Linked DNA regions of Homo sapiens: region 2 is linked to region 1. The links come from fine-mapping of genetic effects on gene expression. A gene starts in region 1. The other region holds a variant in brackets. All regions are shown on one strand. Distances are from middle to middle.

Region 1 (15,525 bases):
GAGTGTAAGTGTTGACAGAGCGCTGAGGTTTTTGGACCACAGTGGTGCCGGAGCTCTTATTCTAGGACTGCAAGCGTCCATGGTACTAAGGTGCTGGAACCGGAAGCCTCGGTAGCAGTGAGAGTCTAGGATTGTAACTGTCAGCGGTGCTGACGACTGGATGGGTTAATGGTGTTAAAGTGCTAGGACTGTAGGGTCAGCTGTCCCAAGGTCCTTAAGGTCTGAAGAAGCCAGTGCTAGGGGGTAGGGCTGAGGGTTTCACGTGACCTTGGGCAACTGAGTCCAGCTTACCTGGGGTAGACCTGATTGTGCCAGTGCAGCAGCGCGTAGCGGTCGGCCAGCGGCAGCCTGCGACGGGCGGAGGCCCCCAGCCACTCGGCCAGGGCCCCGTGGTAGCCGCGCAGGTAGACGCCGAAGGCGCCCAGGCCGGCGGGGTAGGCGGGCGCCAGGCGGCCCCGCACCACGGCCATATCCTCCAGCAGCCGCGCCCGCAGCGCCTCCAGCTGCCCGGCCAGGCCCCCGGGCGCCCCGGGAGCCGCTGCCTCTAGGCGCTCCCGGGCCGCGCGCGCCACGGCTTCGGCCCAGCGTGCGCGTAGTTTGCGGGCCGCCCCGGGACCCCGACGCCCGTCGGCCGCCTCCTCCTGTACCAGCACCTGGCCCAGCTGCGCCACCGCGCCAGCCCCGGCGCACGCTCCCGGCCCGGGGCCCGCCAGCGTCTCGCGCACCAGCGCCCACAGCTCGCGCTGCAGGGCCTCGTACAGCAGCGCCACGTCCCGCGCCCGGCGGCCCCCGCCAGCGCCCTCGGCCTTGGGAGGCCCAGGCGCGCCGCCCCTCGACGGCGCCAGCTCCTCGGCCTCTAGCTCCAGGATGTGCTCGTCCGCACGCGCTAGTTCGCGCTGCTGGATCAGGCTCAGGATCTCCAGCACTGCGGGAGCAAAGCGGGAGGTCAGCAGTGCGCGGGGGGGAGGAGGGCGATGCCGGACGCGGGGTTGGGGGTGCTTAGGAAGGGGAGAGAGATGAGGGGAAAAGGGTTACAGGAGGCGGGAAAGTGTGGGGGCAGAGAAGAGCCCGGAGAAGAGCAAGAAAGAAGGATGTTGAGTGAAGGATGTAGGGGAGGGGTCAGGGTGAGGGGCTCATGCTTGTAATCCTAGCACTTTGGGAGGCCGAGGCCGGCGGATCACTTGAGGTCAGGAGTTCAAGACCAGCCTGGCCAACATGGCAAAACCTCGTCTCTACTAAAAATACAAAAATTAGCCAGGCGTAGTGGCGTACACCTATAATCCCAGCTACTCGAGAGGCAGGAGAATCGCTTGAACCCGGAAGGCAGAGGTTGCAGTGAGCCGAGATCGCGCCACTGCACCCCAGCCTGGGCAACATGTTGAGCGAGACTCTATCTCAAAAATAAATAAATAAAAAAGAGAGAGGGGGAAAAGAAAAATGCCTGTGACTGAGGAGGGGATCTGGGGAGGTTGCAGGGCGGAAAAATGGAGGAGGGGTCGGAGGAGGCGAGAAGGTTGAGAGAGGAGCCACGTAAGGGGGAGAGAGATGGAGGCAGCCGGTGGGAGTAGGAGGGGCAGGGTGGTGACTTGGAGATGGGGAGAGGATATGGGACCACTGATGGGGTCTTTTTGGGGTGGGGATGGCTGTGGGCTGATCTGGCCCTCTGATGAGTTCAGACTGCCTCGAGAAAGGCGAGTCGGGCTGGAAGGCCTCTGAGGCTGAAGGAGGGTCCTGGCAGCCCAGGGTTACCCTCGACACCTCCACCCCCCTCCACTTCCTCCCTGGCAGAGAAACTATTTCCTGGCCAGCGCTATTTCTGCCCATCCGTTTCCAGAAGGCGGGGCTCTAGTCACCCCCTCCTCACCTCCCTCCAGTGCCCTCCCAGTCCCCAGGGAGCTGGGGCTGAAATAGCCTCTGGCCAGAACGTGGAGGGCATCAGAGGACAGAAAAGGCTCTCCTGAGGTCCCCAGCCCTGGAGCAGTTCGGGCCTCGGGGCTAAAAGCCGGGCTCAGGCACGGGAGCAGAGATAAAGGCAGGGTTGGGGGTGGCGGTGAATTAAGATGGGGATTGGGACACGGATGGGGATAGGGCCGGAGGTGAGGATGGGGTGAAGGTGGGGGTTGGGATGAGGGAGTTTAGGGTTAGGATGAGGTCAGGTGGGAGTCTGGACAGAAATGGGAAAGAGGCAAGAATGACATTGGGGTCTGGGTAGGGATGAGGTTGGAGAGGTGGGGGAGGGGAATGTAGGTGAAAGCTGAGGATGGAAAGGACATAAAGATTGATGTGAAGGCCGAGTGCGGTGGCTCATGCCTGTACTCCTAGCACTTTGGAAGGTGGGCGGATCACCTGAGGTCAGGAGTTCAAGACCAGACTGACCAATATGGTGAAACCTGGTCTCTACTAAAAATACAAAAATTAGCCAGGCATGGTGGTGCATTCCTGTAGTCCCAGCTACTCAGGAGGCTGAGACAGGAGAATTGCTTGAACCCAGGCGGCGAAGGCTGCAATGAACTGAGATCTTGCCATTGCACTCCAGCCTGGATGACAGAGCTAGACTCCATCTCAAAAAAAAAAAAAAAAAAAAAAAAGATTGATGTGAGTTTGAAGATGAATTGTGGAAGTGAGTTGGGCTTGGGAATAGGAACATGGATGGAATTGAAAATGGAGGTTGGGGATGGGGGTTTAGGACTGGGACTCAGGATAGGGGTGAAGATAGATTAGGGATGAAGAGGAGGTTGCGTTTGGAGTTGGAATTGAAACTGGGGGCTGAGGAAGAACTAGGAACTCAAATAGGACTGAATAAGGAGGTTGATGGCCAGGTGCGGTGACTCATGCTTGTAATCCCAGCACTTTGGGAGGCTGAGGCGGGTGGATCACCTGAGATCAGGAGTTCAAGACCAGCCTGGCCAACATGGCAAAACCCCATCTCTACAAAAAATACAAAAAAAATTTAGCCAGGCATGGATGGTGATGCATGCCTGTAATCCCAGCTACTCAGGAGGTTGAGACAGGAGAATCGCTTGAACCCAGGAAGCGGAGGTTGCAGTGAGCTGAGATTGTACCATTGCACTCTAGCCTGGGCAACAGAGTGAGACCCTGTCTCAAAGGAAAAAAAAAAAAAAAGGAGGTCGCCAGAGGGAAATGGGTGGAAGGTGGGTGCTGAGAGGGGCCTGGGGTTGGGGGTTAAGAGTGAGACCAAAAGAGTTTAAAAGGGTGGAAGGTGAACATGGGGAAGAATGGGATATGAAACGGGGCTGGACCAGTTGGGGGTTGCCATGGTGTTGGACATAGACAATGACATTAAAGATGGCGTTTAGGCCAGGCGCAGTGGCTCATGCCTGTCATTCCAGCACTTTGAGAAGCTGAGGCAGGAGGATTACTTGAAGCCAGGAGTTCAAGACCAACTTGAGCAACATAGCGAGACCCCCATCTCTACAAAAAATGTGAAAATTAGCCAGGTGTGATCATATGTGCCTGTAGTCCCAGCTACTCTGGTGGCTAAGGTGGGAGGATTGCTTGAGCCCAGGAGGTCAGGGCTGCAGAGAGCCATGATTGCACCACTGCACTCTAGCCTCTAGCCTGAGTGATAGAGCGAGACCTTGTCTCCAAAACTAGATGGCATTTGGAGGAAAGGATGAGCTGTACGAGAAGCATACGGATGTGTCTCAGATAGAGACTGATGGTGGGCTTGGAATAAGTGTGGGGTGAGAACAGAAAAGGCACTGAGGAAGACACTGGGGCTTGGAGTAGGAATGGGGACTGAGGATGAAGACAGGGTGGTGTTAGGGATTGAATTACGTCCCCCCAGAAAAAAAAAAGATATGTGAAGTCTTCACCCCAGTACATCAGAATGTCACCTGATTTGGAAATAGGGTCTTTACAGAGGCAATCAAATTAAAGTGAGATCATAGGGCAGACCCGAATCCCATGTGAGTGGTGTCCTCATAAAAAGGAGAAATTGGCCACACGCCGTGGCTCAAGCCTGTAATCCCAACATTTTGGGAGGACGAGGCAGGCAGATCACTTGAGGTCAGGAGTTTGAGACCAGCCTGGCCAACATGATGAAACCTTACCTCTACTAAAGTACAAAAATTATCCAGGTGGCACATGCCTGTAATATCAGCTACTCGGGAGGCTGAGGCAGGAGAATTGTTTGAACCCCAGAGGCAGAGGATGCAGTGAGCCAAGATTGCACCACTGCACTCCAGCCTGGGCGACAGAGGCAAAAAAATAATAATAATAAAATAAATAAAATAAAGAAATTGAAGAAATTGGGGATAGAAAGAGAAGGGGGAGAGATGGGACCAAAATCAGGTATTCCCTTGGCTTTAGACATGGGAGTAGGGCTGAAGACGGCAGGTGGAGGAGGCAAAGATTGAGGGTGGGCATATATTAACAGGTGGCACTGAAGAGAAAGGTTGACGACAGGGATTAGGACTGCAGTGGTAATGGGTTGGAGCTGGCATGGAGGTGGGAGATGTGAGTTAGACATGTGAATTGCAGGTCGGGGTCACAGGTGGTAGCTGGGATGGGCTTAAGTATGAAGCCTGGGACCACCAGGGCTGGGGATGGACATGGGCACTGGGATTCTCCCAGGACAGGGTCAGGGCTCCGGACTCACCTGACAATGGCTCCTTCATCTTTGGGGGCTCTGGGACCTTGGGTGGGGGCTCTGGAGCTGCCTCGCCTGCAGGCACCACTCTCTCAGCCAGGGACGCACGCTGGGGCTTGGATCCACGCCCCAGTCTCAGGAAGGCCAGTCTCCGGGCGGCCTCCCCCGCTGCCTCCTCGTCGCCGTGGGCTCGGGTCCCATGCAGCCGGGCCAGGAGGCCAAAATCTGCTGAGCTCCTGCGTATCCCTGGTACCAGCACACGGCCCAAGAAAGAGCGGGGCTGCCCATCCCCAGGGCTGCCTGCCCGCCGGCCCGGGGCCCAGCCCAGCCGGAAGGGGGCCAGGCCCGCAAGCTTCTCCAGGGTGGCGCGGCGGCGACAAGATGTTCCATTGGGGAGGGACCCCAGCTCCCCGGCCTCTTCTTCCTCCAGCCCTGAAACTTCTTCAAAGGGGTTCCGAGAGGACCTCAGGGGCAGGGTCCCCGCCCGGGGCACCTTAGGGTCTGACACTCCCAGATTCTTCAGGATAGGCATTTTGACAGGTGGGGACCTGGGGAAAAAAATAATGACCATGGGCGATGCTGATGACAATGGTGGTATGGATGACGGTGCCTCTGTGTACCGAGCACTTTGGGGTGAGCGTACCAGACACTTGCCTGAGCACTTAATAAGCCCTTGATCTGCACAAGCTTATAAGATGGGGACTTTTTTTTTTTTTTTTTTTGAGACGGGGTCTCGCTCTGTCGCCCAGGCTGGAGTGCAGTGGCACGATCTCAGCTCACTGCAAGCTCCGCCTCCCGGGTTCACGCGATTCTCCTGCCTCAGCCTCCTGAGTAGCTGGGACTACAGGCGCCCACCACCACGCCCGGCTAACTTTTGTATTTTTAGTAGAGACGGGGTTTCACTGTGTGAGCCAAGATGGTCTCGATCTCCTGACTTTGTGATCCACCTGCCTCGGCCTCCCAAAGTGCTGGGATTACAGGCGTGAGCCACCGCGCCTTGCCTCTTTTTTTTTTTTCTTTTGAGATGGAGTCTCACTCACTCTGTCACCCAGGCTGGAGTGCAGTGGCACGATCTCGGCTCACTGCAACCTCCGCCTCCCAGGTTCAAGCAAGTCTCCTGCCTCAGCCTCCGGAGTAGCTGGGACTACAGGCGCGCGCCACCACACAAGGCTAAGTTTTATATTTTTAGTAGATATGTGGTTTCACCATGTTGGCCAGGCTGGTCTTGAACTCCTGACTCAGGCGATCCACCTACTTCAGCCTCCCAAAGTGCTGGGATTACAAGAGTGAGCCACCTCTGCTGGCCTGGAATATTCTCTATCTTAAGTTGATCCTCCTACTCCGTGGAGAAACAGGCTGAGAGGGGGGAAGGCTCCCTCCCAAGATGACACAGTCAGTCAAGGGCAGAGATGATATGGGGACTCAGGCCCTACCATCCACCCAGACGTCCAGGGCAGACTCCTGAGCACCTGCCTACACCCCCTCATCCCCTTCATTTCTCCTGTTTGATTTGTACCCTTGTCATCTCTCCCTCATTCATCTCTTCAGCAAAAACTTATTGGGAAATGTCTAGAATAGGCAAAGCCTAATTTTTTTTTTTTTTTTTTTTGAGACTGGGACTCACCCTGTCACCCAGGCTGGAGTGCAATGGCCCCATCATAGTTCACTGCAGCCTGAAACTCCTGGGCTCAAATGATCCTCGTACCTCAGCCTCCTCAGCAGCTGGGACTACAGGTGTGTACCACCATGCCCACTTAATTAATTAATTAATTTATTTATTTATTTATTGAGACAGGGTCTTGCTATGTTGCCCAGGCTGGTCTCAAACTCCTGGCCTCAAGGGATCTATCCACTTCTGCCTCCCAAAGTGCTGGGATTACAGGTGCAAATCACCTCGCAGGTCTCTAGGCAAATCCTTAGAGACAGAAAGGAGACTGACAATAGGACTGGAGAGAACGGGGAATGGCGAGTGGCTGCTAATGGATGCAGGGTTTCCTTTTGGGGAAAGGAAGACACTCTGGAACTAGATAAAGGTGATGGTTGTACAACACTGTGAATGCATTAAGTGCCACTTAATTGTATGCTTTTAAAATGGCTTAAGGCCAGGCGTGGTCGCTCATGCCTGTAATCCCAGCACTTTGGGAGGTGGAGGCAGGCAGATCACCTGAGGTCAGGAGTTCGAGACCAGCTTGGCCAACATGGTGAAACCCCGTCTCTACTAAAAATAAAAAAAGTAAAAAATTAGCCGGGCGTGGTGGCATGCACCTGTAATCCCAGCTACTCGGGAGGCTGAGGCAGGAGAATTGTTTGAACCCAGGAGGCAGAAGTTGCGGTGAGCTGAGATCACACCACCGCATTCTGGCCTGGGCAATAGAGCAAGACTCAGTCTCAAAAAATAAAATAAAACAAAACAACTTACTAGGTATTAGCCATGGGCCCAGCCCTGTGCAGGCGTTAGGGACACAGCAGTGGCCAGGGCAGCCCCCATCCCTGCCATTACAGCTTCCTGAGTCCTGCCCATTCCATCTCCTAAGCCTCTCTTCAGTCTGCGCTCCCTCCTTTCACTCACTTCCCATAGCCCCTACCCCAAGCGGAACCCTTGCCCACTTCCCTGCCCTGGCCTCCTCCCTGGTCCCCAGCCTCTAGTCTTGGCACCTCCAGTCCGCCTTTGAGGACCTTGAAAAAGCGCAAACCAGGCCGGGTGCAGTGGCTCACGCCTGTAATCCCAGCACTTTGGGAGGCCGAGGCGGGCGGATCACAAGGTCAGGAGATCGAGATCATGGTGAAACCTCGTCTCTACTAAAAATACAAAAAATTAGCTGGGTGCAGTGGCAGGCGCCTGTAGCCCCAGCTACTCGGGAGGCTGAGGCAGGAGAATGGCATGAACGCGGAAGGCGGAGATTGCAGTGAGCTGAGATCGCGCCACTGCACTCCAGCCTGGGCGACAGAGCAAGACTCCATCTCAAAAAAAAAAAAAAAAAAAGAAAAGAAAAAGCACAAACCTGCTCTTCTCCATCTCCTAAGCCTTCCATGGCTCCCTAGTATCTTCAGGACAAAGCTGAGGCCTCTCACCACAGCCTTCATGCTCTGGCAGCTGCACACGTCACTAGTGCTGTCCCGTAGCCTCCTCCTTACCCCAGGAACCTCCAGGTTTCAGCATCTGCTGGTGCTTCTACATAGACGCCTGTTCTCCATGCTCCAGTCAGGACTTCAGGACTCACACTTCAGGACTCAGCCCCATGCCCCCTCCTCCAGGAAGCCCTCTGTGACCCTCAGGCTCCCAGTCCCTGGGTTCCCACACCTCACCTCTGCCTGCTCTGGGTCATCCCTGTCTGGGGACAGATCTGTGTCCCTTACTGGACTGCAAACCTCAGCAGGACAGGGCTGGGGCTGTCTCAGTCACCACTGTGTCCCCAGCTCCCAGCACAGGGCAGACACTCAGGGAATGGGTGCTAAACAGGAAATGAAGGAAGGAAAGTGGCAAGACAGTTCATTCCTTGTGTGGGGAGGAGGAGGGTGAGTCGAGCTGGAAGAGGTCACTAGGGAGCAGGCCACGCAGGGCTTTAAGTTCCTTGATAAGGGACAGGCTTTCTTCCAAGAGCCCTGCAGAGCCACAGATAGGTGCTTTTTAAAACAATGAAATAGTTCAAACATTCGGAAAAGTACAGAAGACAAGCTTAATAAACACTTCTGTGCCTACAATCCTAGCCACAGCTCACACAATCATTTGCTCTCTTAGTTCAGGTTTTTGTTGTTGCTTTTGTCTTTAGAGACAGGATCTCACTCTGTTGCCCAGGCTGGAGTGCAGAGGCGTGATCATGGCTGGCTGCAGCCTTGAACTCCTGGGCTCAAGCGATCCTCCCACCTCAGCCTCCCAAGCAACGGGGACATCCTGCTAATTTTATTGTTTAATTTTTTGTTATAGATGGGGTCTCGCTATATTGCCCATGCTGGTCTGGAACTCCTGCTCCTGGCCTCAAGCAATCCTCCCTCCTCGGCCTCCCAAAGTACTAGAATTACAGGCGTGAGCCACCATCCACTGCCCTGATTTTTGTTTTAAAGAACAAGCCAGGCGCAGTGGCTCACGCCTATAATCCCAGCACTTTGGGAGGCCGAGGAGGGAGGATCACCTGAGGTCAGGAGTTTGAGACAAACCTGGCAAACATGGTGAAACCCTGCCTCTACTAAAAACACAAAAATTAGCTGGGTGTGGTGGCGGGTGCCTGTAGTCCTAGCTACTTGGGAGGTTGAGGCAGGAGAATCACTTGAACCCAGGAGGCGGATGCTGCAGTGAGCCCAGACTGTGCCACTGCACTCCAGCCTAGGCAACAGAGCGAAACTCCATCTCAAAAAAAAAAAAAAAAAAAAAGAATTACAAATGCGTGCAGCCTCCTCCTGCCACCTCTCCTGGTCCCACTCGCTCTGGCCTTCTCCTAAGGAATCCAGCATCCAGAATGAATGTGCTGTTTACCCGTCCAAGTAGATTTTTATCCCATGCTCCATAGACTTGTATCCAGAAATAATATACTGTTCTACATGGTTTCAAACTCTCTATAAATGGTATCATACTATTTGTATCTTGCAACTTGCTTTAAAATTTATTTTTTTGCTCACGTTATGAACTTGTGAGAATTTATCCATGTCTAGCCATACAGCTCCAGTTCATTTAAGTGCTATGTAATATTCCACTATATGAATTGTGTAAAGGGTCAGATGTTCACTTGTTCTTCTATTGCTGGACGTGTAGCTTGTTTGTCACCACGACAGGGTTCTGAGCAGGTCAGGACAGGGTCAGGATTATGCAGACGTGCGGGGGTGGACAGGAGGCCTGGGAAGAGGGTGGTGTGCAAAAGGCCTGGGTTGCCTAGGTTATGAGTAAGAGCACCCCTTTCCATGATGGGGAGGCCCCTTCTTTCTTTCCCTGTTTCAACCCCTGAGCTGCTGCTTCTCAACCCTCCAGTTCCTAGAAACGCTCTCGGACCTCCTTCCGGTCTCCATGGGCCCCCGCCCCCACAGGAGGCAGTCACCATGACGACCCCTTGCCTGGAGCCCCCATGGCTGTGTGCAATAGATACTCCCCCATGCACACACATTATTTGCACACTCATTTCTCTTCTATTTTATTTTATTTTTTCAGATGGAGTCTCGCTCTGTCACCCAGGCTGGAGTGCAATGGCGCGATTTCAGCTCACTGCACCTCCACCTCCAGGGTTCAAGCGATTTCTCCTGCCTCAGCCTCCCAAGTAGCTGGGACTACAGGTGCCCACCACCACGCCTGGCTAATTTTTGTATTTTTAGTACAGATGGGGTTTCACCATATTGGCCAGGCTGGTCTCGAACTCCTGACCTTGTGATCCGCCTGTTTCAGCCTCCCAAAGTGCTGGGATTACAGGTGTGAGCCACCGCACTCTGTCCTTCTCTTTTATTTTTTAGACAGTCTCACTCTGTCACCCAGGTTGGAGTGCAGTGGCATGGTCTCGGCTCACTGCAACCTCTGCTTCCCAGGCTCAAGCAATCCTCCCACCTCAACCTCCCGAGTAGCTGGGAGTACAAGTGCAAGTCACCACACCTGGCTAATTTTTGTATTTTTAGTAGAGATGAGGTTTCGCCCTGTTGCCCAGGTTGGTCAACTCCTGAGTTCAAGCGATCCACCTGCCCCAGCCTCCCAAAGTGCTGGGATTACAGTCATGAGCCACCACACCCAGCCTTGATTTCTCTTTCATCCTCTGAACTGGCATCCACATGCCTCATCCCAAAATGGCTCCATCATCCCCCCTCCACCCCATAACTGTCTCCATCTTCCTCTCAAAATTTCAGGCTCGAATTTCCCTCCAATTGAAGTCAACCTTGCCCGGACTACATCTGACTTTCCCCCACCTGGCTTCAATATCGCCTCCAAACTGGATCCAACATCCCCAAACCTGGCTGCAACATTTTCCCAAAACTGTCTCCGACGTCTTTCCCCTTCCTGGCTCCAACACCCGCCTCTGCAAACTGGTGCTGACATCCTGCCCCCTCCAACCCTCTGTCTGCCTCCCAGTGCCCAGCCCCTGACTCACTTCCGAGGCATCCCTCAAGCCCCCAGCCTCTCAGGCCCGCAGGATGTCTTGGCCACCAGAGCTTCCCTCTTTGAGCCCCTCCTCCTCTTCCTCACTGCCAGCCTTTTCCCCGGAGTCCCTAACCTTCTGCAGCGGCCCTGACCTCGGTTTGCGGAATCCATCACCTCCAACGCTCAGCATCTGTATTAGAGAACGGTCTTTCCATATGGCATGTCCCCAAGCCCAACCCCAACCAGTGCAACCCCAATCTAGTCCTTGACCCCAAACACAATCCTGTCATCAGCCCAGACCACTGCAAGCTCATCCACATCTCCAATCCCAACCTGATCTCGGTCTCTCCTGCTTGATCTCAATCCCTACCTGGTCCCTGTCTCCCATCTCCGAGACCCCATCTCTTGGGATAGAACAAATACCCGATCCTTCCTGGCCTCAGTCTTCCCGCCCAGACTCGCAGGACATTCGACCCAATGTCATCTCATCTCTATTCTCCTTTGGTGGCACCAAGGTTTCTAATGCTCCCTTGCACCCTTTGTGGACCCCGCGAGTCCTCAAATTCTCCCCTGCACCCTCCTCTCATTTTCATCTCCTTTCTGCCTTCTCGCCAGCACCCCTCTGGAGTCAGGCCCCAGATTCTCTCTTTGCCCCCAGCCTCTGCTGGGTTCAAGGTACAGGTTCTCATCAGCTCTGGTCCAGTGCAACTAAGGGCAACTGTTTTCCCAGTTGCCCTGGGGAAGGGGGACCCCTTCCCCCTGTCCCCAGCACACTCACCTCTGTCCTCCTGCCCGTCCTTCTGTTCCCGCTGCTGTCCTGTCCCCAGGCTACTTCAGCCAGGACTGCTGGGAGCTTGGATCTGAGTTGGGGGGGTGCTCGGAGGAGGACAATTTCCTGTCAGGAAACCCCTCCCTCTCTGGGGCCAGGGGCGGGAAGGACTCATTATCTGTCTGCCCTTTTAGGCCAGGCTGCGGTTGGGCTGGGAAGGCCGAGGCCCACAGCTGGGCCCCCACCCTCACCCCCGCTCCAGGCCGGAATCCGCCCACTCCTGCATGCTCTTCACGCCTCCCAAGGTGACAACACCATCCTGGGCGCCCCGGGGAGACACCCCAAGCTGGACGCCAGCCCAGAGCTGCTCTCCAGCATGGGCAAGCCCCGAGGCCTTAGAATGAGAACCGGGGGGCAGGCACGCATCTCTCTAGAGTTCCCTGCCACGGGCTGAAGACCAGGAGGGAAGTTTTGCTGGGCCCAGGGGCTGGGGAGGGGGACCTATGGAGGAGGGCACTGGACATGGCTTTGGAATTGTGGTTCTCTTTGTCTAGAAGCCCCTGTACCCAGGTCTCTGCATGAGGCCCTCCTTTTCATCATCCCAGTTCCAGCCCCACAGTCTCTTCCTCTGTTCTCCACTGTCCCGTCTCACAGAGTCGTCACTCTGCTTTGTCAATTTATTTTTCTTTTTTTTTTTCCTGAGACAGAGTCTTGCTCTGTTGCCCAGGCTGGAGTGCAGTGGCGTAACAATAGCTTACTGCAGCCTGGATCTCCCAGACTCAAGAGATCCTCCCACCTCAGCTTCCTGAGTAGCTGGGACTACAGGCATGCACCACCATGCCCAGCTAATTTTTGTATTTTTTGTAGAGACACGGGTCTCATTAGGTTCTCCAGGCTGGTCTCAAACTCCTGGCCTCAAGCCATCCTCCTGCCTCGGCTTCCCAAAGTGCTGGGATTACAGGCGTAAGCCACTGTGCCCAGCCTGTCAATTTCTTTATTGCACCTTCTACAATCTGAAATTATCAGATGCAACTGGATTCCTTGCAGATAAACTCAGCAAAGCTCACTTTGTTGATCCTGTTCATCTTTATAAGCCTAGCTGCGTGCCTGGCCCTCAGTAGTCAAGATTTAAATGAATTTAAATGAAGCTGAGGGTTGGAGGTGGGTTTGGAGATGGACTTCCTGCTAGAGTTGGGATGCCAAGTGAAGTGAGGGCTGGGGCTGGAGCTGGTGCTGGGTGGGGTTGGGTATGAGAGTCAGGGTTACTTTAAAAGGCTAGGGCCATGTGTGGTGGCTCATGCCTGTAATTCCAGCACTTTGGGAGCCAAGGCAGGGGGATTGCTTGAGCCCAGGAGATCAAGACCAGCCTGATAATATAGCAAGACCCCGTCTCTACAAAAAAAAAAATTTTTTTAATTAGCCAAGTGTGGTGGCACGCTGTAGTCCTAGTTACTAAGGGAGCTGAAGTGGGAGGATCACTTGATCCTGGGAGGTGGAGGCTGCAGTGAGCCATGATCTCGCCACTGCGCTCCAGCCTGGGTGACAGAGAGAGACCCTGTCTCAAAAATTAAGAAAAAAAAAATTTTTTTTAAATAAATAAAACTGGGCTGGTTGCAGTGGCTTATGCCTATAATCCCAGCACTTTGGGAGGCCAAGGTGGGTGGATCGCTTGAGGTCAGAAGTTTGAGACCAGCCTGGCCAAACTGATGAAACCCTGCCTCTACTAAAAACACAAAAATTAGCCAGGTGTGGTGGTGCATACCTGTAATCCCAGCTACTCGGGAGGCTGAGACGGAAGAAATCGATTGAACCCAGGAGGCAGAGGTTGCGGTGAGCCGAGATTGTGCCACTGCACTCTCCGGCCTGTGAGACAGAGTGAGACTCCATCTCAAATAAACAAACAAACAAATAAATAAATAAGATAAACTGTGTTCAAGTGCTCAGGCACAGCCTGAGGGGGATGCGTGATCACTGGCCTAGGCAAAGTCCAGGCTGGGATCAGGGTTGGGGTCAACATTAGGATCGGGGGCTGGGCTTAGGGATCACAGCTCCCTCCTGGATCCAAGGGTTAAGATTCAAAGGTCTGAATGCCCCAGTTGAAGGAATGAATTCACCAGACATAGGTTGTGGAGGAAGGGCTAGCTGGATGACCAGGTCGGGAGGCAGAGGAACAGGCCTTGCCCCCCAGCTCGGCCTCTGCACCGCGGACCCATGGTCAGCAGTGGCCCATCATGTACTGGGATCGTGCAGGATTTCCACCCCGCCTTATTTATTTATTTATTTATTTATTTATTTAGAGACGGAGTCTTGCTCTGTCGCCAGGCTGGAGTGCAGTGGCGTGATCTCTGCTCACTGCAACCTCCGCCTCCTGGGTTCAAGCAATTCTTCTGCCTCAGCCTCCCGAGTAGCTGGGACGCAGGCGCTTGCCACCTGCAAGCGCCCGGCTAATTTTTTGTATTTTTTTTAGTAGAGACAGGTTTTCACTGTGTTAGCCAGGATGATCTCGATCTCCTGACCTCGTGATCTGCCCGCCTCGGCCTCCCAAAGGGCTGGGATTACAGGCGTGAGCCACCGTGCCCGTCCCCCTCCTTTTTAAAAATTATTTTTTTTATTTTGATTTAGAGACAGGGTCTCACTATGTTGCCCAGGCTGGTCTCGAACTCCTGGGCTCAAGTGATCCTCCCGTTCTGGCCTCCCAAAGTACGGGGATTACAGGTGTGAGTCACCGCGTCCAGCCCCCTTTTTAAATTTTATTATTATTTTTTATTGAAATACAATTCACATACATAAGAGTCACCCTTTTCAAACAGAGTCCGGTAGGTTTTAGTATATTCACAAGGTTGCAGCAAGCGTCACCACTATTTAATTCCAGAACATTCTCATCACCCCAAAAAGAAACCTGGTACCCATCAGCAGTCATTTCTCATTCCCCAGCCTCCAACCCCTGGCAACCATTAATCTACTTTCTGTCTATGGATTTGCCAATTCTGAATATTTCATATGAATGGAAGCATACAGTAAGTGGTCTTTTGCGTCTGACTTCTTTCGCTAAACATGCTGTTTTCTTTTTTTCTTTTTTGAGACGGATTCTCACTCTGCCGCCCAGGCTGGAGTGCAGTGGCGCGATCTCAGCTCACTGCCAGCTCCGCTTCCCGGGTTCACGCCATTCTCCTGCCTCAGCCTCCTGAGTAGCTGGGACTACAGGCGCCCGCCACCGCGCCCGGCTAATTTTTTGTATTTTTAGTAGAGACGGGGTTTCACCGTGGTCTCGATCTCCTGACCTCGTGATCCGCCCGCCTCGGCCTCCCAAAGTGCTGGGATTACAGGCGTGAGCCACCGCGCCCGGCCACATGCTGTTTTCAAGGTTCATCCACTTTGCAGCCTCCCTCTCTGTAAGCCTCGGTCCCCCCACATCTGGGAAATGGGGTGGGGACGCTGTTGGGGAAGGGAGGGCAGGGGTGGACCCTGGAGTGTGTGGGGCGCGTGTAGGGAGGTGATCGGCTGCCCCCGTGTGGTGCACGGTAGAACTGCAGCTCTCAGCGCCAATGCAGGGAACGGGTTGGGGGCGCTCAGCCCCTCTAGCCTACCCCCAAGACCCCCACTTTCACCCTGCGGCGTCCCTGGGATCACAGTACGTCTAGAACACTACCCCGGAACTCCACCCTCTCTGCCACTGTCCCTGAGGCTCCTCGGGCCATATTTGCCAAATAGTAATAATAATGTCCCCACATATGAATTTTGAATCTGGTCCCCTGTGAAGCACTTTACTCAAAGATTCTCATTTATTTGTTAGCAGTAACATTAAAATAACAAATAAATATAAACAAATTGACAAATAAAAATAGTAGCAGCCTGAGGTTGCTGCTATTATTTTTCGGAGACAGGAAACCACAGTGGTTGAGAGAGGGTCCAAGTTCTGGAACTTGGGAGCACTTGGATTCAAATTGTAGCCCTGCCACTAATTTGCCGTGTGACCTTCAGCGTGTGACGTTTCTCCCTTCCTTGGGCCTCTGTTTCCTCATCTGCAAATGGGATTGATAAAGATGCTCCCTACCTCTTGGGGTGGCAGAAAGGAGAAACTGCTCAGAGCCTGGC
Region 2 (15,525 bases), 46 kb before region 1:
CCAATTACACATTTTTTTTTGAGAGAGAGCCTCACTCTGTCGCCCAGGCTGGAGTGCAGCAGCGTGATCTCAGCTCACTGCAACCTCTGCCTCCTGGGTTCAAGCAATTCTCCTGCCTCGGCCTCCCGAGTAGCTGGGATTACAAGTGTATGCCACTATGTCCGACTAATTTTTGTATTTTTAGTAGAGTCAAGGTTTCACCATGTTGGCCAGGCTGGTCTCGAACTCCCAACCTCAGGTGATCTGCCTGCCTCAGCCTCCCAGAGTGCTGGGATTATAGGCATGAGCCACCGCAACTGGTCAATTACACCCTTTTCGTTATTTTTTTTCTTTTTAATAGAGATAGTCTCTGCCATGTTGACCAGGCTTGTACAGAACTCTTGGCCTCAAGCAGTCCCCCATCTCAGCCTCCCAAAGTGCTGGGATTACAGGTGTGAGCCACAGCGCCCGGCTTCTTTTAGTTACTTTAAAATGTACAACTAGTCACCCGGATGTGCTGTCAAATAGTAGATCTTATTCATTCTTTCTAATTATTATTATTATTATTATTATTATTATTATTATTATTTGAGACAGAGTTTCACTCTTGTTGCCCAGGCTGGAGTGCAATGGTGCATTCTTGGCTCATTGCAACCTGTGACTCCCTTGTTCAAGCAATTCTCCTGCCTCAGCCTCCCAAGTAGCTGGGATTACAGGCACGCGCCCCCATGCCTGGCTAATTTTTTATATTTAGTAGAGACGGGGTTTCACCACGTTGGTCAGACTGGTCTCGAACTCCTGACCTCAGGTGATCCACCCACCTTGGCCTCCCAAGGTGCTGGGATTACAGGCATGAGCCAACACTCCCAGCCTATTATTATTATTACTATTTTGAGGCAGAGTCTTGCTCTGTTGCCCAGGCTGGGGTGCAGTGGCGTGATCTCTGCTCACTGCAACCTCTGCCTCTGCCCAGCTAATTTTTGTATTTGTAGTAGAGATGGGGTTTCACCATGTTGGCCTGGCTAGTCTCAAACTCCTGACCTCAGGTGATCCTCCCGCCTTGGGCTCCCAAAGTGCTGGGATTACAGGCATGAGTCACTGTGCCCGGCTGTTCTTTCTAATTATTATTTTTGTACCCATTAACCATCCATCCCCTCCTCTGCCACCTCCCCAACCCCACTGGCTAATTTTTATATTTTTAATAGAGATAAGGTTTCACCATGTTGGCCAGCCTCGTCTCAAACTCCTGACCTCAAGTGATCCACACACCTTGGCCTCCCAAAGTGCTGGGATTACAAGTATGTGCCACTGCACCCAGCCAGAGCGCCATTGAATGTTATTTGTTACTTCTGTCTTGCTGCTTTTAGGATTCTTTCTTTATCCTTGACCTTTGGGAGTTTGATTATTAAAGGACTTGAGGTAGTCTTCTTTTTTTTTTTTTTCTTTTTTTGAGACGGAGTTTCGCTCTTGTTGCCCAGGCTGGAGTGTAATGGTGCGATCTCACCTCACCACAACCTCTACCTCCCAGGTTCAAGTGATTCTCCTGCCTAAGCCTCCCGAATAGCTGAGATTATAGGCATGTGCCACCAAGCCTGGCTTTTTTTTTTTTTTTTTTGGTATTTTTTAGTAGAGATGGGGTTTCTCCATGTTGGCCAGGCTGGTCTCAAACTCCCGATCTCAGGTGATCCGCCCGCCCAAAGTGTTGGGATTACAGGCGTGAGCCACCACGCCCGGCAGGTAGTCTTCTTTGGGTTAAATCTGCTTGGTGTTCTATAACCTTCTTACATTTGAATACCGATATCCTTCTGTAGATTTGGGAAGTTCTGTGTTATTATTCCTTTAGATAAACCTTCTACCTCTGTCTCTCTCTACCTCCTCTTTAAGTCCAGTAATTCTTAGATTTGTCCTTTTGAGGCTATTTTCTAGATTTTGTAGGTATGCTTTATTCTTTTATCTTTTGTCTCCTCTGTGTATTTTCAAATAGCCTTTCTTCAAGTTCACTAATTATTTCTTTTTTTTTCTTTTTCTAAGATAGAGAAAGGGGTCTTGCTATGTAACCTGGCCTCGTCTCAAGCTCCTAGGCTCCAGTGACCCTCCTGCCTTGGCCTCCCAAAGTACTGGGATTACAGGCATCAGTCACCATGCCCAGCCACTAATTTTTTCTTCTGCTTGATTAATTCTGCTGGTGAGAGACTCTGATGCATTCTTTAGTTTGTCAATTGAATTTTTCAACTCCAGAACTTCTGCCTGATTCTTTTAATTATTTCAATCTCTTTGTTTAATTTATCTGATAGAATTCTGAATTTCTTCTGTGTTATCTTGAATTTTGTTGAGTTTCCTCAAAACAGACCCCTCCTTCTCTCTCTCTCTCTCTCTCCCCCACCCATATATATAGTTTTTGTTTGTTTGTTTCTTGTTGAGACAAGATCTGGCTCTATCACCCAGGCTGGAGTGCAGTGCCACAGTCTTGGCTTACTGCAACCTCCACCTCCTGCGCTCTAACCATCCTCTCACCTTAGCCTCCTGAGTAGCTGGGACCACAGGTGCACACTACCATGCCTGGCCAATTTTTGTATTTTTTTTGTAGAAACGGGGTTTTGCCATGTTGCCCAGGCTGGTCTCGAACTCTTGAGCTCAAGTGATCTGCCCACCTCAGCCTCCCAAAATGCTGGGATTACAGGCGCCAGCCACTGCACCCAACCCCAGAACAGCTAATCAATTATCTGTCTGAAAGGTCACGTATCTCTGTCTCTCTATGATTGGTCACTGATGCTTTTATTTTATTTTATTTTATTTTATTTTATTTTATTTTATTTTATTTTTTGAGAGAGAGTCTTGCTCTGTCGCCCAGGCTGGAGTGCAGTGGCGCAATCTCGGCTCACTGCAAGCTCTGCCTCCCAGGTTCACGCCATTCTCCTGCCTCAGCCTCCTGAGTAGCTGGGACCACAGGCACCCGACACCACGCCCGGCTAATTTTTTGTTTTTTTAGTAGAGACGGGGTTTCACCATGTTAGTCAGGATGGTCTCGATCTCCTGACCTCACGATCCGCCCGCCTCGGCCTCCCAAAGTGCTGGGATTACAGGCGTGAGCCACCACACCCAGCCTAGTTTATTTTTTATTTTATTTTTTTATTTTTTTTGAGACAGAGTTTTGCTCTTGTTGCCCAGGCTGGAGTGCAATGGCACGATCTCGGCTCACCACAACCTCCGCCTCCCTGGTTGAAGCGATTCTCATGCCTCAGCCTCCCGAGTAGCTGGGATTACAGGCATGCACCACCACGCCCAGCTAATTTTGTATTTTTAGTGAGATAGGGTTTCTCCATGTTGGTCAGGCTGGTCTTGAACTCCCAACCTCAGGTGATCTGCCCGCCTCGGCCTCCCAAAGTGCTGGTATTACAGGCATGAGCCACTGTGCCCGGCCGGCTTTATTTAGTTTCTGTGGTGAGGTCATGTTTTCCTGGATGGTTTTGTTACCTGAGGATGTTCATACATTTCTGGGCACTGAAGAGTTAGGTATTTATTATAGTCTTCACAGTCTGGGCTTGTCTGTACTCATCCTTCTTTGGAAGGCTTTCCAGGTATTGAAAAGACTTTTGTGTTGCGATCTAAGTCTTTAGTCACTGCAGCTGTATCTGCATCAGGGGGCACCCCAAGCCCAGGAATGCCGTGGCCCTTGGAGACTTGTAGAGACACTGCCTTGGTGGTCTTGGATAAGATCTGGAAGAATTCTCTGGATTATCAGGCAGAGATTCTTGTCTTCTTCCTTTTCTCCCAAACAAATGGAGTCTCTCTGTGCTGAGCTGCCTGGAGCTGGGGGAAGGGTGATACAAGCACTGCTGTGGCCACCAGTGCTGGGACTGTGCTGGGTCAGACGTGTAGCCAGCCCAACACGGGGTCTCCCCCAAGGCCCGTGGTCAGCACTGCCTGGGTACCACCTATGTCCACTGAAGGCCCTAGGGCTCTGTGAGGAGCAGACGGCAAATCCAGCCAGGCTTGTGTTCATCCTTTCAGTGTGGTGTGAGCCCCCCATCACAGGTGCGCCCAGAGATGCCATCTGGGAGCCAGGGCCTGGAGTTGGAAACCTTAGGGACTCTACCTGGTACTCTGTTCTACTGTGGCTGAGCTGGCACACAAGCCACAAGACAAAATCTTCCCCACTCTTTTTTCTGCAAGCAGGGGAGCCTCTCCCTGTGGCCACCACTGCCCCAGGACCATGGCAGCTACTGCTTGGCTACTGCCGGTGTTCATTTAAGGACCAAGGTCTCTTCAGTCAGCTTGTGTGAAGGCTGCCAGGCCTGGGTCTCTCCCTTCAGGGCAGTGGGCTCCCCTCTGGCCAAAGGTAGGTCCAGAAATGACATCCAAGAGCCAAGGCCTGGAATCAGGGACCCCCAAGAGCCAACTTGGTGCTCTACTCCACTGTGGCCGAGCTGGTAACTAAGCTGCCAGACAAAGGCCCCTTTACTCTTCCCTCCCGCTTCCTTGAGCAGTAGGAGCCTCTCCCCGTAGTCACCACGTCAGGGAATATGCTGGGTCATATCTGAAGTCAGTGTGTCTCTGAGTCTCACTCAAGGCCCACACGGAGTACTGCCTGGGTACTGCTGCTGATTATTCAAGGGTCCTTTAGTCAGCAGGTAATGAATCCTGCCTGGACTGGGCTATTTCCTTCAAGGCAGCAGTTTCTTTTCTGGCCCAGATGTTTCTAGAAATCGCCTTGAAGCTAGAGCCTGGAATGGGGCCCTCAGGACCCTGCTTGGTGCGCTATCCTACGGTGGCTGAGCTGATATCCAAGGTGCAAAACAAAGACCTCTTTATTCTTCCCGCTTATCTCCTCCAGTGTGAGGAAGACATTTCAAGCCAGGCGTGGTGGCTCACGCCTGTAATCCCAGCACTCTGGGAGGCTGAGGCAGGCAGATCACCTGAGGTCAGGAGTTCGAGACCAGCCTGACCAACACGGTGAAACCCCGTGTCTACTAAACATACAAAATTAGCCGGGTGTTGTGGCACACGCGTGTAATCCCAGCTACTCAGGAGGCTGAGGCAGGAGAATACTTGAACCCAGGAGGCGGAGGTTGCTGTGAGCCGAGATCACTCCATTGCACTCCAGCCTGGGCAACAAGAGCAAAACTCCGTCTCAAAAAAAAAAAAAAAAAAAAAAAAAAAAGAGACTATTTTTGCTACCCCGTTCAGTGGCTCTTTCAGTGATATGAAGTTAAAACCAGGTACTGTGTTCGCTCACCTGATTTTGGTTCTTATGAAGTGCTTTTTTGTGTGGATAGTTGTTCAGCTGGTTGTTCTTCTGAAGGAGATGATTACTGGAGGCTTCTATTCAGCCATCTTCCCCTGCCTCCTCATAATTGCTATCTCTTTATTGATTTTCTCATGTTGTTTGTATATTGGTTGTATATCATTTTCCTGATTTCCATTTATTCTTTGTCTATGGTTTCCTTTAGCTCATAAAGCATATTTAAGACAGTCGATGATGTCTGTGACTAGTAATTCCAATGTCTGTGCTTCCTCAGAGATGGTCTCTGTCAAAAGAACTTTTTTTTACTATAAATAAGCCATACTTGCCCGTTTCTTTGTATGTTTTGTAGTATTTTTGTTGAAAATTGGACTTTTGGAGTATTATAATATGTTAATTATTGAAATTGGATTCACCCTTTCCTTGGAGATTGCTGGGTTTTGCTTGTCAAGGGCTAGAGCCATCTGTTTGACTTTTTAAAACTGTTTTTGCAAAATGTGTATTCCTTTTGCTGTGTAGTCACTGAAGTTTCTATTCCATTTTTTCTGTTTTTTTTTTGTTGTTGTTGTTTTTGTTTTTGAGATGGAGTCTTGCCCTGTCGCCCAGGCTGGAGTGCAGTGGTGTGATCTCGGCTCACTGCAAGCTCCTCCTCCCAGGTTCATGCCATTCTCCTGCCTCAGCCTCCTGAGTAGCCGGGACTACAGGCACCCACCACCACGCCCAGCTAATTTTTTTGTATTTTTAGTAGAGAAGGGGTTTCACCGTGTTAGCCAGGATGGTCTCGATCTCCTGACCTCACGATCCGCCCTCCTTGGCCTCCCAAAGTGCTGGGATTACAGGTGTGAGCCACCGCGCCTGGCCTTTTTTTTTTTTTTTTTTTTTTTTTAATGAGATGGAGTCTCACTTTGTCGCCCAGGCTAGAGTGCAGTGGCACGATCTCAGCTCACTGCAACCTCTGCCTCCCAGGTTCAAGCAATTCTCCTGCCTCAGCCTCCCAAGTAGCTGGGATTTTAGGCCTGTGCCACCATGTCTGCCTAATTTTTGTATTTTTAGTAGAGATGGGGTTTCACCATATTGGTCAGGCTGGTCTCGAACTCCTAACCTCAGGTGATCCACCTGCCTCAGCCTCCCAAAGTGCTGGGATTACAGGCATGAGCCACCGCGCCCAGCCAATTTCTCAGGTATTTATTTATAGCAGTATAAAAACAGACTAATACACCCGCGATCGTTCCATTTATTTCCCTCTTGTTTATTATGAGCACATATGTGTTCCAAAAGACAGTGTGCTTAGATAAATTGTTTGTACCTTCAAACTAGACACAATCTAAATGTCAATCCATTGGTGACTGGGTAAGTAAAGCATGCTACATTCATACAACAGACATTATAGCAATGAACACGAATGACCTTCTGCTGTACACAACATGAATGTATCTCACAAGCATAATGTTCCACCAACAAAGCCAGAGCACATACCGTATGATTCCACTTATCTCCAGTCAGAACCAGGCAAAACCATGCTAGGGGTGTTGAAGGTCAGGACAGCAGTTAATTGGGGAGGAGGCAAGGGGTAATGACTGCATGAAGGGTTGCATCTGAGCCACTGTCAATATTGTATTTCTTCATAGGGGTGGAAATTAAAGATTTGTGTTCACACTAAAAATTTGTGAACTCTGGTATGTGTGTTATACTTTTTTTTTTTTTTTTGAGATGGAGTTTCGCTCTTGTTGCCCAGGCTGGAGTGCAATGACATGATCTCAGCTCACTGCAATCTCCGCCTCCCAGTTCAAGCGAGTCTCCTGCCCCAGCCTCCCGGTAGATGGGATTACAGGCATGCGCCAGCACGTAGTAGAGATGGGGTTTCTGCATGTTGGTCAGGCTGGGCTTGAACTCCTGACCTCGTGTGATCCACCCACCTCTGCCTCCCAAAGTGCTGGGATTACAGGTGTGAGCCACCGCGCCTGGCCAATTTTTTATTCTTTTTGAGGCAGGGTCTCACTCTGCCACCTTCCTAAGGTGCGGTGGCATGGTCATGGCTAACTGTAGCCTAGACCTCCTGGGCTCAGGCAGTCCTCCCACCTCAGCCACCCGAGTAGCTGGGACTACAGGTTCACACCACCATGCCCAGTTACTTTTTGTAATTTTACCAGAGACGGGGTTTTGGAATGTTGCCCAGGCTGGTCTTGAACTCCTGCACTCAAGTGATCCGCCCACTTTGGCCTCCCAAAGTGTTGGGATTATAGGCATGAGCCACAGGGCCCAGCCACAAATGTATATTTAATTTACATGGAAGCCTACTGTTCTCCTCCCTCCCTCCTTCCCTCCCTCCCTCCCTCCCTCCCTCTCTCCCTTCCTCCCTCCTTCCTTCCTTCCTCAGAGTTTCTCTCTTGTTGGCCAGGCTGGAGTGCAATGGCATGACCTCAGTGCACTGCAATCTCCGCCTCCTGGCTTCAAGTGATTCTCCTGCCTCAGCCTCCCGAGTAGCTGGGACTATAGGTGTGCACCACCACGCTTGGCTAATTTTTGTGTTTTTAGTAGAGACAAGGTTTCACCATGTTGGCCAGGCTGGTCTCGACCTCCCAACTTCAGGTGATCCACCCGCCTTGGCCTCCCAAAGTGGTGGGATTACGGGCGTGAGCCACCGTGCCCAGCCTGCCTTTTTCAAGTAGTCATATGTCTTGGAGAGCATTCTAATCAGAATGAAAAACAGCTGAGCCATTCTGTTTACTTATACGGTGAC[C/T]AAGCCATCTGCTAGTCATTCCCCTATTGATGATCATTCAGGGTGTTCCCTATTGTTTGTGACTACATATGGTGTGGCAAAGAATATCTTTGAATATATTCATTTCCCACATGTATGGGTATCTTGGAAAGAAACACATTTCCAGATGTGGAGTTGTTGGGTCAAAGGGTGAGTACATTTTAAATTCTGTTAGGTGCTACTTTATTTTTTAATTTTTTATTTTTTTTTGAGACAGGATCTCATTCTGTTGCCCAGGCATGGTGGCACATGCCTATGATCCCAGCTACTTGGGTGGCTGAAGCTCGAGAATTGCTTGAGCCCAGGAGATGGAGGTTGCAGTGAGCTGAGATCGCACCAGTGCAGTCTAGCCTGGGTGACATAGCGAGACTCTGTCTCAAATATAATGCAACATGGTGTCCATGGTCCAGGTGAGGCTGAGCTAGGAGGTCTGAGGTCAGGGTAGGTCTGACCCCTCTGGGTGGTCCTCAGTGTCCCACAGCACTGAGCCTGCCAAGGAGGAGGTGCTAGGGGAATATTCCTGAGGGAATTTAGGGAGATGGGAGTGAATTTGATGAGCAGGAGGCAGGGGTCTTTGGGTAAGTGAGAGAATTGAAAAGGAAAAAACTCTTAGCCGGGAGCGGTGGCTCACGCCTGTAATCCTAGCACTTTGGGAGGCCGAGGCGGGTGGATCATAAGGTCAGGAGATCAAGACCATCCTGGCTAACACGGTGAAACCCTGTCTCTACTAAAAATACTAAAAATACAAAAAATTAGCCAGGCATGGTGGCGGGTGCCTGTAGTCCCAGCTACGTGGGAGGCTGAGGCAGGAGAATGGCGTGAACCTGGGAGGCAGAGCTTGCAGTGAGCCGAGATGGGGCCACTGCACTCCAGCCTGGGCAACAGAGCAAGACTGTCTCAAAAAAAAAAAAAATCAATTTTAGGAAAGTGTCTGAGAGAGATCAGTGACTCAGAAGAGTTTGAGTGGGGAAGTGCTCAGAAGCCATGGCTTCTTGCAGGGGGTATGGTCCCACAGGGGCCCACGGGGTTTCCTGGGCACAGGGACCCAAGTGGGACCTCAGCAGGTGGGTGGGATGCTGGGAGTGGAGGGGGCTGAGGGGTGTTCTTTCCTTTACTCCCTTATGGCTGCAGTGAGCTATGATCGTGCCACTGCACTCCAGCCTGGGTGACACAGTGAGACCTTATCTCAAAAAAAGAAAAAGAAGTCCAGGTGCGGTGGCTCACACCTGTAATCCTAGCACTTTGGGAGACCAAGGTGGGAAGATTTGCTAGAGCTCAGGAGTTCAAGACCAGCCTGGGCAACATGGCGAAACCCTGTCTCTACAAAGTAAACAAAAATTAGCTGGGTGTGGTGGCAGGTGCCTGTAATTCCAGCTACCCAGGAGGCTGAGGCATGAGAATCACTTGAACCCGGGAGGTGGAGTTTGCAGTAAGCTGAGATTGTGCCACTGCACTCCAGCCTGGGCAATGGAGTGAGACTCTGTCTCAACAACAACCACCAAAAAAAAAGAAGAAGAAGAAAAAGAATAAAAAAGAAGATTTAGAGGCTGGGTGTGGTGGCTCCCCCTGTGATCCTAGCACGTTGGGAGGCCGAGGCGGGTGGATCACCTGAGGTCAGGAGTTCAAGACCAGCCTGGCCAACATGGTGAAACCCCGTCTCCACTAAAATACAAAAATTAGCCAGGCATGATGGTGGGTGCCTGTAATCCCAGCTACTCAGGAGGCTGAAACAGGAGAATTGCTTGAACCTGGGAGATGGTGGTTGCAGTGACCCAAGATTGCACCACTGCACTCCAGCCTGGGTGGCTGAGCGAGACTCCGTCTCAAAAAAAAAAAAAAAAAAAAAAAAAGATCTAGAAAGGAGAGTTAGGGAGTCCATGAAAAATCTCTAGCCAGCCCTCCTGAAGCACTAGACAGGGGAACAAGTCAGAGTTTGCAGGAAAATCTGGGAAGTCAGGCATATCCAACTATCAGAGTCATGGAAGGCTGTTGCCTCTGCATCTGATGTTGAGCCCGAGGTCACTGGTGGTTAGCAGGGCAGAAAATTGAGAAGAGATAAACAGGAGTGTGGGGGAAACAAGGTCCCGAACACTTGCATCTGTCTCACCCTGCAGGGCAGAGCGAGAGCAAATGGGAACCCCCTAATGCATCTACATCTGTCTTTTCCCCCATCTAAATAGAGCAACCGTCCAAGAAAAATACTGTGCTAAACTTCTTTCTTCCAGTTTTCATGCAATTTTCTCCTTTGGCCAACTCTAACTTAGAACCATATGGGGAAGGGGTTTTTTTGTTTGTTTGTTTTGTTTTGTTTTCAGAGTCTTGCTTTGTTGCCCAGGCTCTGGAGTGCAGTGGTGCGAGCTCGGCTCACTGCAACCTCCGCCTCCCAGGTTCAAGCAATTCTCCTGCCTCAGCCTCCCAAGTAGCTGGGATTACAGGCACCCGCCACCACGCTCAGCTAACTTTTTTGTATTTTTAGTAGAGACAAGGTTTCGCCATGTTGGCCAGGCTGGTCTTGAACTCCTGACCTCAGGTGATCCACCTGTCTCAGCCTCCCAAAGTGCTGGGATTACAGGCGTGAGCCGCCGCACCCAGCCAACTTCATCACTTTCAATATGTCGTGCCACTCTATCCTAGCCTGTGAGGTTTCCACTGAAGTCTGCTGCCAGACGTATTGGAGCTCCATTGTATGTTTGTTTTTGTTTTTGTTTTTGAGACAGAGTCTCACTCAGTCACCCAGGCTGGAGTACAGTGACGAAATCTCGGCTCACTGCAACCTGCACCTCCCAGGTTCAAGCGATTCTCGTGCCTCAGCCTCCCGAGTAGCTGGGATTACAGGTGTGAGCCACTGCGCCTGGCCTCATGCCTGGCTAATTTTTTTTGTATTTTTAGTCGAGACGGGATTTCACCATGTTGCCCAGACTGGTCTGTAACTCCTGGCCTCAAGTGATTCACCCGCCTCAGCCTCCCTAAATGCTGGGGATTACAGACGTGAACCACTGCACACGGCCTCCATTGTAAGTTATTTGTTACTTTTCTCTTGCTGCTTTTAGGACCCTTTCTTTATCCCTGATCTTTGGGAGTTTGATTATTAAATGCCTTGAAGGTAGTCTTTGGGTTAAATCTGCCTAGTGTTCTATAACCTTCTCGTATTTGAATATTGATATCTTTTTCTAGGTTTGGAAAGTTCTCTGTTATTATCCCACTTAATAAACTTTCTATTCCAATCTCTCTACTTTCTCTTTACGGCCAATAAAACTCAGATTTTTCCTTTTTGTGGCTATTTTCTAGATCTTGTAGGTGTGCCTTATTCTTTTTTTTTTTTTTTTTTTTTTTTTGAGATGGAGTCTTGCTCTGTCTCCAGGCTGGAGCACAGTGGCACGATCTTGGCTCACTGCAACCTCCGCCTCCCGGGTTCAAGCAATTCCCCTGCCTCAGCCTCCCGAGTAGCTGGGATTACAGGTGCCTGCCACTACACCTGGCTAATTTTTTGTATTTTGGTAGAGATGGGGTTTCACCATGTTGGCCAGGATGGTCTCAAACTCCTGACCTCGTGATCCGCTTGCCTCGGCCTCCCAAAGTGCTGGGATTACAGGTGTGAGCCACTGCGCCTGGCCTTTATTCTTTTTTATTTTTTCTTTTGTCTCCTCTGGCTGTGTCTTGTCCTGTCTCATCTCTTTTCTCTTCTCTTCTGTTCTCTTCTGTTCTCTTCTCTTCTGTTCTCTTCTCTTCTTTCTTCTCTTCTCTTCTCCTCCTCTCCTCTCCTCTCTTCTCTTCTCTTTTTGAGACAGAGTCTCACTTTGTCGACCAGGCTGGAGTGCAGTGGTGCTGCAATCTTGGCTCACTACAACCTCCACTTCCTGCGTTCAATCAATTCTGGAGCCTCAGCCTCCTGAGTAGCTGGGATTACAGGCATGCACCACCATGCCCAGCTAATTTTTCTATTTTTAGTAGAGACAGGATTTCACTATGTTGGCCAAACTAGTCTCAAACTCCTGACCTCAGGTGATCCAACCACTTCAGCCTTTCAAAGTGCTGGGATTACAGGTATGAGCCACTGTGCCCGGCCTGACTGCATATTTTCAAATAGCCTGTCTTTGAGCTCACCAATTCTTCAGGTTGATCAATTCTACTGTTCAGAGACTGATGCATTCTTCAGTGTGTCAGTTGAATTTTTTCTACTTAATTTTTTTTTTTTTTTTTGAGACGGAGTCTCGCTGTGTCGCCCAGGCTGGGGTGCAGTGACACGATCTCCGCTCACTGCAAGCTCCACCTCCCGAGTTCATGCCATCCTCCTGCCTCAGCCTTCCGAGTAGCTGGGACTACAGGCGCCTACCACCACGCCTGGCTAATTTTTTTGTATTTTTAGTAGAGATGGGGTTTCACCGTGTTAGCCAGGATGGTCTTGATCTCATGACCTCGTGATCCACCTGCCTCGGCCTCCCGAAATGCTGGGATTACAGGTGTGAGACACCGTGCCCAGCCCCTTTCTGCTTAATTTTTAAAAATTATTTCAATCTGTTTGGTTAATTTATCCGATAGGATTCTGAATCCCTTCTCTGTGTTATCTTGAATTTCATTGAGCTTCCTCAAAACAGCTGTTTTGAATTCTCCGTCTGAAAGGTCACATAGCTCTGTCACAATGGGGTTGGTCACTGGAGCCTTGTTTAGTTCACTTGGTGAGGTCATGTTTTCCTGGATGGTGTCAATGCTTGTGGATGTTCGTCAATGGCTGGGCATTGATGAGTTCAGTGTTTATTGTAGTCTTTGTAGTCTGAGCTTATTTGAACCCATCCTTCTTGGGAAGGCTTGCCAGGAAATTGAGTGTTGTGAACTAAACTTTTGGTCACTGCAGCTGTATCTGCATTAGGGGGCACCCCAGGCTCAGTAATGCTGTGATTCTTGCAGCATCTTAGAGGTGCTGGCCAGGCGCAGTGGCTCACGCCTGTAATCCCAGCACATTGGGCAGCCTAGGCAGGCGGATCATCTGAGGTCGGGAGTTTGAGACCAGCCTGGCCAACATGGTGAAACCCTGTCTCTACCAAAAAATACAAAAATTTGCCAGGCGTAGGGGTGGGCGCCTGTAGTCCCAGCTACTTGGGAGGCTGAGGCGGGAGAATCACTTGCGCATGGGAGGTGGAGGTTGCACTGAGTGGAGATTGCAGCACTGCATTCCAGCCTGGGCGACAGAGTAAGACCCTGTCTCAAAAAAAAAAAAAAAAGGAATCTTAGAGGTACTGCCTCAGTGGTCTTGGTTAAGATTCAGGAGAATTCCCTAAATTACCAGGCAGAAACTCTTCTCTTCCCTTACTTTCTCCAAACAAACGCAGTCTCTCTATCTCTGTACGGAGCTGCCTGGGGCTGCTGGAGGGGTGACACAAGTACCCTTGTGGCCACCACCACTGGGACTGCACTGGGTCAGACCCAAAGCCAACACACCACTAGGTCTCACCCAGGGCCCGTGGCAACCACTACCTGGCTTCCACCAATGTTCACACAAGGCCCAAGGGCTCTTCGGCCAGCAGGTGGTGAAGCCTGCCGGGCTTGTGTCCTTCCCTTCAGGATGGTGAGTTCTCTCCTGGCCCAGGGCAGGTCCAGAAATGCCATCTGGGAGCCAGGGCCTGGAGACAGAAACCTTAGGAATCTACCTGGTGCTCTATTCTACTGTGGCTGAGCTGGCACCCAAGCCACAAGAAAAAGTCTTTCCTACTTGATATGGTTTGGCTGTGTCCCACCCAAATCTCATCTTGATTTGTAGCTCCCATAATTCCCCTATGTTATAGGGGGTACCCAGTGGGAGATAAGTGAGTCATGGGGGCAGTTTCCCCCATACTGTTCTTGTGGTATTGAATAAGTCTCATGAGATCTGATGGCTTTATAAGGGGAAACCCCTTTGGCTTGGTTCTCATTCTGTCTTGCCTGCCACCATGTAAGACGTGCCTTTTGGCCAGGCATGGCAGCTCACGCCTGTAATCCCAGCACTTTGGGAGGCCGAGGCGGGTGGATCATGAGGTCAGGAGATCGAGACCATCCTGGCTAACATGGTGAAACCCCGTCTCTACTAAAAACTACAAAAAATTAGCTGGGCGCCTGTAATCCCAGCTACTCTGGAGGCTGAGGCAGGAGAATGGCGTGAACCCGGGAGGCAGAGCTTGCAGTTAGCCCAGACTGTGCCACTGCACTCCAGCCTGGGTGACAGAGTGAGACTCCATCTAAAAAAAAAAAAAAAAAAAAAAAAAAAGACGTGCCTTTCAGCTTCTGCCATGATTGTGAGGCCTCCCCAGCCACGTGGAACTGGGAGTTCATTAAGCCTCTTTTTCTTTATTAATTACCCAGTCTCAGGTATGTCTTTATCAGCAGCATGAAAACAGACTAATACACCACTCTTCCCTCACTTTTCCTCACACAGGAGTCTCTCTCTGTGGCCACCACTGCTCCAGGCCCATGGCAGGTACTGCCTGGCTACTGCTGATGTTCACTCAAGGCCCAGGCCCTCTTCAGTCAGCTTGTGGTGAGTGCTGCCAGGCCTGGGTCTTTTCCTTCAGGGAAGACAGCTCCCCTCTAGCCCAGGGCAGGTCCAGAAATGCTGTGCAAGAGCCAAGACCTCAATTGGGGATGCCAGCAGCTGCTGGGTGCTCTACCCTACTGTGGCCAAGCTGGTGTCCAAGATGCAAGACAAAGTCTCCTTTACTCTTTCCTCTCCTTTCCTCAAGCAGGAGTCTTTCCCCAGGGCCACCACAGCTGGGAATGCGCTGGGTCACACCTGAAATCAGCACGGCACTGGGTCTCACCCAAGGCCTGCGGCGAGCACTCTCTGGCAACCACTGATGTTTATTCAAGGCCCAAGAGATCTTTAGTCAGCAAGTAATGAATCCTGCCAGGACTGGGTCCTTCCTTTCAAGGCAGCGGCTTCCCTTCTGGTCCAGGGTGTGTCCAAAAATGTCATCCAGGAGTTAGGGCCTGGAATGGGGGCCTCAGGACTCCGCCTGGTGCCCTATCCTCCTATGGCTGAGCTGGTATCCAAGTTGCAAAACAAAGACCTCTTGACTTTTCGTCTCCTCTTCTCAAGCAGAAGGAAGGAGTCTCTCCCGGAACTGCAAGCTATACTGCCTGGGGTTTGGGGCTCGGGGGCTCAAGCACTCCCTTGGCTGCCTCAGCCAATGTCTCAGTGGGCCTCATGCCCTCCAGGTCCACTTGTTCTGAGCCCAGCAAGGCACCAGGACTTGCCCAGAAATTGCAGTCCTTGTGGCCTGACTGCCTTTCAAGTTTATTTATTTATTTATTTATTTATTTATTTGAGATGGAGTCTTGCTGTTGTCCGGGCTGGAGTGCAATGACGTGCTCTCGGCTCACTGCAATCTCTGCCTCTTGGGTTCAAGCGATTCTCCTGCCTCAGCCTCCTAAGTAGCTGGGATTACAGGCGTGCGCCACCATTCCCAGCTAATTTTTGTATTTTTAGTAGAGACGGGGTTTCACCATGTTGGTGAGGCTGGTCTCGAACTCCTGACCTCGTGATCCGCCTGCCTAAGCTTCCCAAAGTGCTGGGATT

The links. PIP is the estimated chance that this variant, and not a neighbour inherited with it, causes the effect. A credible set is the group of variants that fine-mapping cannot tell apart.
Region 2: its variant is the best candidate, but not a certain one, in a credible set for the expression of EXOC3L2 in whole blood (INTERVAL, PIP 0.88).

The regions. Positions count from the first base shown.
Region 1 is chr19:45,233,902-45,249,426 of GRCh38, forward strand. EXOC3L2 (exocyst complex component 3 like 2) reads right to left here and starts at 11,506. Exons shown (of 12, transcript NM_001382422.1): 1 at 11,440-11,506; 2 at 4,622-5,160; 3 at 292-925. The coding sequence starts at 5,144. It also overlaps the pseudogene LOC100420902. RefSeq lists an enhancer at 11,200-12,196.
Region 2 is chr19:45,188,021-45,203,545 of GRCh38, forward strand. It overlaps a transcript of BLOC1S3 not described here. Among named protein-coding and RNA genes, the nearest start is that of BLOC1S3, 17 kb to the left of the region's middle. The variant C/T (reference allele first, on the strand shown) is at 7,962.